Regions from separate parts of the Homo sapiens genome. Here region 1 is linked to region 2. The links come from fine-mapping of genetic effects on gene expression. Tissue or cell type: whole blood. Region 2 holds a variant in brackets; the other region holds the start of a gene. All regions are shown on one strand. Distances are from middle to middle.

Region 1 (4,391 bases), 50 kb after region 2:
TGCCTCAGCCTCCTGAGTAGCTGGGATTACAGGCATGCGCTACCACACCCGGCTAATTTTTGTATTTTTGATAGAGACAGGGTTTCACCATGTTTCACCATGTTGGCCAGGCTGGTCTCGAATTCCTTACCTCAAGTGATCTGCCCACCTTGGCCTCCCAAAGTGCTGGGATTATAGGCATGAGCCACCACGCCCAGTCTCTTCGGTTTTTCTAATAGAAAACCTAGCATATTTTAAACGATTTTGCCACTTAACACTTATTATGGACCCACAGGGTATGAGGGCCTTTGGAGATCATCTAATCGGACTTCCCACCCAACTACAGGAATCATTTCATTGCAACAACTCTTTAAACCCGTCTAGAAAATGCAATGCTCTCTCCCCTTTTCCACGGTTGAACATCTTCCTCATGGCCCTATAATAATCAATGATAATTAATGAGCCTCTTCCTCTCCTTGGACAAAGAAATATGATAGGAGAAATGTTTAGTTTGCTGATGCCCATCATGGGGGAATAGTCCACTGGTAACTCTGGCTTTTGGGTTCAGGATTAGACAGAGTGGTTAAACTAAAATATTTATCGTAAGTATGAATTTGTTCCACAAACATAACATTTCAAAGGTAGCTTTGTTTCCTCTTTCCTTGCACTGCCAGCTATTAACTTTCGGTTCATTAGTCACGATTTTCAGAATCCACTTGGCTGCCACCTTCCTGCAGCCAGACCATCTTGGATCAGAGGGTGGGCCAGCCATTCCCACGTCACACCTGCCACGGGATCGATTTTTTCCCCCATTGACCACAGTCACTTTTTGTCAATTAATTAATGTTATTCACCTGGTACCCATCTTGTGAATGGTAGGTCACTACGGAGCGGATTACTACTTCATATCCCATCAATGACAGAGCCATCATTACGAAAACCTTTTCTGACAACCACTGAAGAGAAACCATCTCCACACCGTGCATTTTGCATCACTTCCGTTGCTTCTTTACCTGATTTATCACAAAGACTATGTACCACACATCTTCTTTATTAATGCATTGACAATCAGTGAAGACAATGAAAACCCACCACTTTTGTCCGTGAACTGAGAAAGAAAATGGCAATGTCATATGGCATTAATGATGCATGAGATCTATGGGTGTAGTGTCACGTCTAGGCGTGTAGTAATCCAGTCTTCGGCCTTACTCCAGGGAGAAAGATTCAGCTTTGTTACTTTCCAGTCACTCTCTCCCGTAACACAGCACCTTGGCACAGAAAGCAGAGCGACAAAACCCAGAATGAGGACAGTTAAAATTCAACTCAAGCTACAGCCATCCCAACGGTCCTCCCCAGCTCCCGCGGAATATTTACCAAGACCGTTTAAAGCACTTAATTAATTCACTTCAGCTTCGCTGGAGAGGTCTCAGGGTTCCCGAGACTCCATTACATAATATCTTTCACAAAGTCTATTCCCAGCTCGAATGGAAGATGGATTCTCATCCAGTGTGCGGAGGTTCCATGCCTTTGCTTCCCTTTCCCGGAGTTCGATCCGGCGATACCCTCCCGAGGCTGCAGCCATCGCCCCGGCCCCGAGCTTCTGGGGTACCCGCCACTCTTCGAACTCCAATCTGGCCCCGAAGGTGCAGCCGCCTCGCCCTCCTGGCTCCCAGGCCGGCCGCTGCGGCCACGGTGCCAGCGAGCGCCCGGGACACCGCGACTCTCGCTGCTCGCTGGGTGCGCCCCAAGCCCATCCGCAGCGCACCCGCGGCGCCGGGGCCAGAGCCGCAGCTCGGTGGCACGGCCGGCTCGGTGCGCCGGGCTCGGGGAGGAGGAGATCGGGAAGAGGTGGAGGCGTGTGAGGGAGGGAGGAAGGGCCCGGCCGCCCGAGAGGGGGAGGGGGAGGCGGAGGGGGCCGGCCGGGCCGGGGAGGGGGGGCAGCCAATGAGCGGCGCGCGGCGCGTGGGGGTGGGGGGAAGGTCTGGGGGAGGAGGTAGGATGGGGGAGGGCGCAGCCCGAGCGGCTGAGGCTCCAGCCATAAACAAGCGCCCGGAGGAGCGGCGCAGGAGTGAGGCGAGCGGGGCGCGCGGAGCGGACGCCGCGGATCTTGTGCTGCGCCACCGCGCCCACTCGGCAGCTCGGGAGGCGGGGACCGGCCCGGAGGCTGCGCCGCTGCGGGGCCGGCCGACTCGGAGGAGGAGAGGGAGGAGGCGCCGCCGGCCCGGGCTGGAGCCGAGCGCAGCAGCCACCGCCGCCGCCGCGCCAGAAGTTTGGGTTGAACCGGAGCTGCCGGGAGGAAACTTTTTTCTTTTTTCCCCCTCCCTCCCGGGAGGAGGAGGAGGAGGAGGAGGGGAAGCTGCCGCCGGCGCCAAGGCTCGTGGGCTCGGGGTCGGCGCGGCCCGCAGAAGGGGCGGGGGCCTCGCCCCGCGAGGGGAGGCGCGCCCCGGGGGCCCCGAGAGGGGCGGTGAGGACCGCGGGCTGCTGGTGCGGCGGCGGCGGCGCGTGTGCCCCGCGCAGGGGAGGGCGCCCGCCCCGCTCCCGGCCCGGCTGCGAGGAGGAGGCGGCGGCGGCGCAGGAGGATGTACTTGGTGGCGGGGGACAGGGGGTTGGCCGGCTGCGGGCACCTCCTGGTCTCGCTGCTGGGGCTGCTGCTGCTGCTGGCGCGCTCCGGCACCCGGGCGCTGGTCTGCCTGCCCTGTGACGAGTCCAAGTGCGAGGAGCCCAGGAACTGCCCGGGGAGCATCGTGCAGGGCGTCTGCGGCTGCTGCTACACGTGCGCCAGCCAGAGGAACGAGAGCTGCGGCGGCACCTTCGGGATTTACGGAACCTGCGACCGGGGGCTGCGTTGTGTCATCCGCCCCCCGCTCAATGGCGACTCCCTCACCGAGTACGAAGCGGGCGTTTGCGAAGGTACGGCCGCCCGCTGCGGGCCCCCTCCCACCTGGCCTGCGCCGCCCCCTCGGCGCTGGTTGTGCCGAACAAAGTTTGGGCGAGACTTTCTGGAGGAAAGAGGGCTCTGCGGGAAGAGGGGCGGCCGCCGCCCCCAGGAGAGTGCCCCCGCGGCCCTGCGTTCCCTCTCCTTGTTCCCCCCGACGCTTAGGCAGTCGCGGGCGAGGTTGGGTATGGTGGGTGGGGGCGAGCGAGTGGAGGATCGCCCCTGTCCCCGCGCAGACGCGCACACGTGTGGCCGTTCCTGCTGGGACTGGGTGGCCCGGCCTTGCTCCCCGAGGTGGGGGCGCCGCGGGCGGGGGGCACTGCAGATTCTGCCGCGCGCGAGCCCCTCGGGGAGCCCGGCCCTACCGCCCTCCCCGCACTGGCGCAGTGTGGCACCGTGAGCCGCACGCCGGCCGCGAAAGTCCTTTTTCTGTTGGCGGAGGAGACGTGTCTCCAGCTCGCACTCCCCGAGTGACTCTTATTATTTTTTCCTTGAGCTCTTCCTTCACCCCTTCCTCCTCCTCCGCAGATAAATCAGTTTCAGCCGCGGAATATGTCAGCCCAGGGGAAGTTACACACGGTGGTTACTCATTTATTTGCCCATTGTAAACGGTCAAAGGCTTTCTCTCCTGAAAGGAAAGGGGGGTGGGGGTTGCACCTGGGAGTAAAAAGTTGTTGCTATTAGTGGCTGCTTTTTAATATCAGATACCCGCGTGTTTCCTGTCGTGTTGCCGGTTCCTCCTTTTTGTTTGTTTGACAGCGGGGATTGTTCTGCTGGCTTCTCCAGCACGCATTGTGCTCCGCGGTGTCGAGATTGACGGTGGGAGAAACAGATTAGATTAGTGGAGTCTTTCTCGTTGGGGAGCCAATGTTAGTGCGTGTTGGCTTTAATCCCTGCCCGCTTGCGTCGGCCTTCAGGGTGCCTGGTCTGGTTTGGGGTCTAGAGCGAGGCAGTGAGTTATTTTGATGTGGCTAACGGGGGCACGGTTCGGTAAGCATCAGTTAAAAGTGGGATCCCTGCTCTGGCTGACGTTGGGCTGATGATGCTGTTCCGGGGGCATCCTGGCGAGTGAGCAGAGCGCACGCAGCAGCCTCGTTTCTGGGGAGGCGGCGAGGAGGGACAGGCGCCCTCTGCCCGGCGTGCCTTCCTCACTACTCACAGCCAGCACCGTCCAGGGAACGGTTTATTCCGAAGCATCTTTGTGTGTGTTTGTTTAGTATGCTGGGATACTGAAAAAGGAGGTGACAGCCTTAAGGATAACAATGGACCTATTAAAAGGCTTCAGTGCTGTGATTCTCTCTAAATACGCACAGACACACACATAGGTACTTATTTATACCTGAATAGTTTGGGGTTTGGACAGTTCAGGAAAATAGGGGAGGGTTTTCTGGTTTGGAAGCTAGTGGGCAGTGATGAGTGAAGGGAACTCTTCTCAGAGGGGAGGGACTTGCTCTTGCTTTGCTGCACACGTAAGACA
Region 2 (4,391 bases):
AAGCAAGTTTCAGAATGTTCCCTGCATGGGCTACATTGCCTGCTGACAGGAACCCAGCTGACAGGTAGGGTGGAATCTTCAGGAGCACAGGTGGGAGCAAGTCAGAGCATCAAGCTGTTAAAGTGGAGAGCAGAGATGTGGGAAAATGATTTTTTAGAAATTCAGACATCTAGCATTGTGGGATCCGCTGAGTCCCTCATTTGCTTTTTTATTTCTCTTTTTCCATGAAAATAATGATTCTACGTACTCTGCCCTGTGATGGTTATGAAGTAGAATAAAACATTGTTCCAAAAAGATTTCCTGGCTGGGCACGGTGGCTCACGCCTGTAATCCCAGCACTTTGGGAGGCCAAGGCGGGCGGATCATGAGGTCAGAAGCTCAAAACCATCCTGGCTAACACGGTGAAACCCCATCTCTACTAAAAATACAAAAAAAATTAGCTGGGCGTGGTGGCGGGGCGCCTGTAGTCCCAGCTACTCGGGAGGCTGAGGCAGGAGAATGGCGTGAACCCAGGAGGCGGAGCTTGCAGTGCGCCGAGATTGCGCCACTGCACTCCAGCCTGGGCGACACAGCGAGACTCCATCTCAAAAAAAAAAAAAAAAAAAAAAGATTTCCTGAACATCTCCTGTTTACCAGACATGGAGCTGGGTAGGCACTGAGGATACAGAAGTGAGTTAAGACACAGACTTTGCCCTCCTGGAGTTTCCCAGCTAGGATAGGAGTTCACACCCAGAATCTACATTCTTCTTGAGTACAAAGTCAAGGCTATTGTTTCTTCCTTCAAGAAACAAACATGGAAAATTAGAAATAAACTTGCCATAATTCATGGAATCTCCAACCCAAAACTTTTTGACCAAAAGTCTGGAAGACAATTAGTTACCATCAAAGATGTCAGTTGGCCTTATTAAGTAAAAGGTTGCCAACCAATGAGCTAGAAAGGCATTAAAAAAATGTTCTGGCAGAAATGCTGCCTACATTTCCCCAGACTTCATGAAGTTGTGGGTGCAGATAATGTCACGGACACAGAAATAATGCACAGCACATTGGCTTTTATTCCCACTTACTTTAAAAAGTCAAAGCCTCCCCTACTTATATCTGGGAAAGCCCAAAAATGTGCCAGGATTAGGAGACAGTCTAGGATGCACACTTTCTGCCACTTGCTTCTCCTTCACCCTCTGCTTGATGTCCACTTCATCGAATGTGTCTCTCTTTCATCACTGGTACCATTCCTCTATTGAGACATTCATGCCTGTGATACCTGTACCCTCCCAAAAGATGCCAACCCTTGAGGTACCAAAACAGCTCTAGAAAGAAGAAGTGATTGTCTCTTGCGTATTTACATTACACATCATGTATGTCCTATGTCTCACAGGACCCTCATGGAAACAGGGCTTAGGGACCATGCCTCCCTCGCTCTTCCTCCCATGTAAGTTATCCCAACAAAATAGACACAGACTCTCGTTGGTCTCCCACCTGCCTTCCCCCACATCTAAAAAATGAGTCATGCCTGACATGTCTGAACCCAGTGGTCAGCATGGCTCAAGTTCAAACTAGAGTCCTTGAAGAAGAACCTGCTGAATCCTAGGCTTCTGCGAAAGAGCCAGTAAATATGTAGCTCATTTATTCTTCAAAAAACTCAGAACACAAACTAAGTGTTGAATACTTGGAATACCTTGATCATTTTTCTTAAAAAGACATAGTCCCGCTACTTTTAAAACTAGTAAATCCAAAACACAAAAATACGTAATTACTAGCAAAGACAAAGTATTATGAAAGAAATAAAGAGCGATGGAAAAAAGATATTCATAGCTTACCAAAACACAGCCGAAATTTGGGGGCAAGTTCAAGAGTTTTGAACAATGTTTTATTGTCTCTTTACATGTTGACTAAGTACAGATCTATTGAGTTGGAACAAAATGTCA[T/C]GCAGGTCATTCTTAACAACTCAGTAGGTCCTACAGAAGGTAGCACCTTGTACTTTCTCATTTTAGTGATCACCCACAGACTACTGTTAGGTCACTGAAGAGGATTTGCAACTGCTCTCAGGTTTTTGGACACAAAAGATTATGCTCTGCTCTTTGTATGTGAGCTGTGAAGTGTTAAGTCCTTCCATCTTGGTGCTGTCCACACACAATAATGTTCATAATTACATTATCCAGATTAGTGATTAAAAAAATAAAATGCTAAGCCAGTGTCATCCACCGACAACGTTAACCCAGGTGGATAGACATTAAGTCAGTACTACTATATGAACATCAGTGCTTCCATATAACATCAGTACTTCCTGCCGATGTTAATGCCATGTGGAATGAAATAAAACCCACTAGACTCCAAATATGCTGTCTGTATTACTCTCTTCTTCCACACATTGCCCAAAGGAAACTAGTCTTCTCACATGATCAGCTCTTCACAGAATAACTGCGATGACCATGGAGTATCCTCAGGTCTTCCATATATTTATCAACTAAAGTTTTTATTCTTTTATGATCCCACATCAGAGATGCACAAGTTTCCTGGTGACATTTTGTGTCAAACTCTGTATGAACTGAGTTCCCAGAGGCTATTTACATTTAACATCACTACAGCTATGGGTTTGCATTAGGTATTCAGTGTTTTTCTGAGGCTTTATGTAAATCAATTACTTTAAGAGCTAATAACATGTCCCAGTGACTTCAATTATAACTTCAAAGAATAGCTCCCACTGGGACTATGCAGGCCATAACACATATAGAGACACATGTAGAGAACATCCTGTCTTTGTCAATGCATGGTCTACATGCATGTAGTTGCCTGCCTTATATTGTGTTGGGCAAATGTACAAATCAATTAACATGCTCTTCAGTGACCAATTATTAATGCATTTATTAAATTATGTCATATTAAATCAGTATTGCAATCAGATACTCTTACCGATCTTGAAAATCTGACTTTCTAAAAATCACAAATTTCATGCAATTGTTCCAGATATTTTATATGACCCCATATCTTCTTGTCTGAAGAAGTGTTCCTTGAAGCAATGCTCAGAGTATGCAACAAGATATTACTGGGAATTTCAGTGCAATTCATGCAATTTTTTTAAATTGTTAAATATTAATTGACTATATACTGATTAGTGAATGCCACAGCCAAATTAAAATTTCTAATAAAGTATATTGATGACATGTTTCCATCTGGAAACAACAACTGTTTAACAAAAAACTAAACAATACATTTTCTAGAAGCACACAGCTGGTACAGCAGTTAAACATGTAAACAATAATTATATATATCACATATGTAATGTGATACTAATGAAATACTGATTAATTATGGTAAGAAAATAATAAATATAATCAGAAATATGATTGGTGCTTTATCAAATTACATATTGTCACAGTAATACTGTACTCCATCTTCCAATAGCAAAAGGAAGAAAAATATAAGTCTAGATACACACACACACACACACACACCTGCATGTAGAAGAGCTATACATGGTAAGTTCAGGAAAGGAAATTTTACAATAGCACGGTTAGAACTAACTACTTCCCAATGCTGTTCAACTCCCTCTTCTAGTCCATGTTCATTCAAAAACAAAAAAAATTGACTCACATATTGGTGGAGGAACTGGCTCTGAAAATTCCAAATTCTGCCCCTTCACATGGATTCTTGAAGCAATTAGAATAGGCAGTGATCAGGGGCAGGCATGGTGTCTCATGCTTATAATCTCAGCACTTTGAGAGATTGAGCTGGGAGTCTCTCTTGAGGCCAAAAGTTTGAGAATAGCCTAGGCAACATATGGAGATCCCATCTCTACAAAAAAATTAAAATAAAAAGAATAGGCAGTGGTTTTTTTCATGCTAACAATACTTCTTTGCCCACCTAACAAATTCTACCCATCCTTAACATCCCAGCCCAATCACTACTTTTTCATTGATATCTTCAGTGTTTCCCACCCTGCCACACCCACCCACCACAGCAAAAACAAACTTTTTTTACATTTATCGGTTCACTACAAAGGATATTTTAATGAATCCAAACAGATGGTCAGATGAAGAGATTCACAGGGCAAGATCTGGAAGGGTCCCAAGTGTGGGAGCTCCTGTCCCTGAGGACTTGGCAGCATGTGAATGTGTAAGCCTCCATGTGTTTGGCTATCTGAAAACTCCCTGGCCTTTTCGATTTTTGTGGAAGCTTCACTACACAGGCACGATTGACAATTAAGTTACTGTTGGACCCTGCACATATCATACCCTCTGCAGTGCCCTTAAGTGACTATACTGAGATTGTTTATAAATATATCTCCCCTCTGGTTCATGAGCCCTTTAGGACTAGGAATTGCATCCATGTGTTTTCAGCTTGTATCGCCAATGTCAAGCACAATACCTGGCATGGGGCGGACAAGCATTCAATAA

Evidence for each region.
Region 1: CRIM1 starts here. The variant in region 2 is fine-mapped to the expression of CRIM1 in whole blood (TOPMed, PIP 0.96).

What each region holds. Positions count from the first base shown.
Region 1 is chr2:36,353,735-36,358,125 of GRCh38, forward strand. It overlaps CRIM1 (cysteine rich transmembrane BMP regulator 1), which reads left to right and starts at 2,044. Exons shown (of 17, transcript NM_016441.3): 1 at 2,044-2,889. The coding sequence starts at 2,559. CRIM1-DT (CRIM1 divergent transcript) reads right to left here and starts at 1,836. Exons shown (of 2, transcript NR_037631.1): 1 at 1,354-1,836; 2 at 1,015-1,247.
Region 2 is chr2:36,303,568-36,307,958 of GRCh38, forward strand. No RefSeq gene overlaps it. Among named protein-coding and RNA genes, the nearest start is that of CRIM1-DT, 50 kb to the right of the region's middle. The variant T/C (reference allele first, on the strand shown) is at 1,923.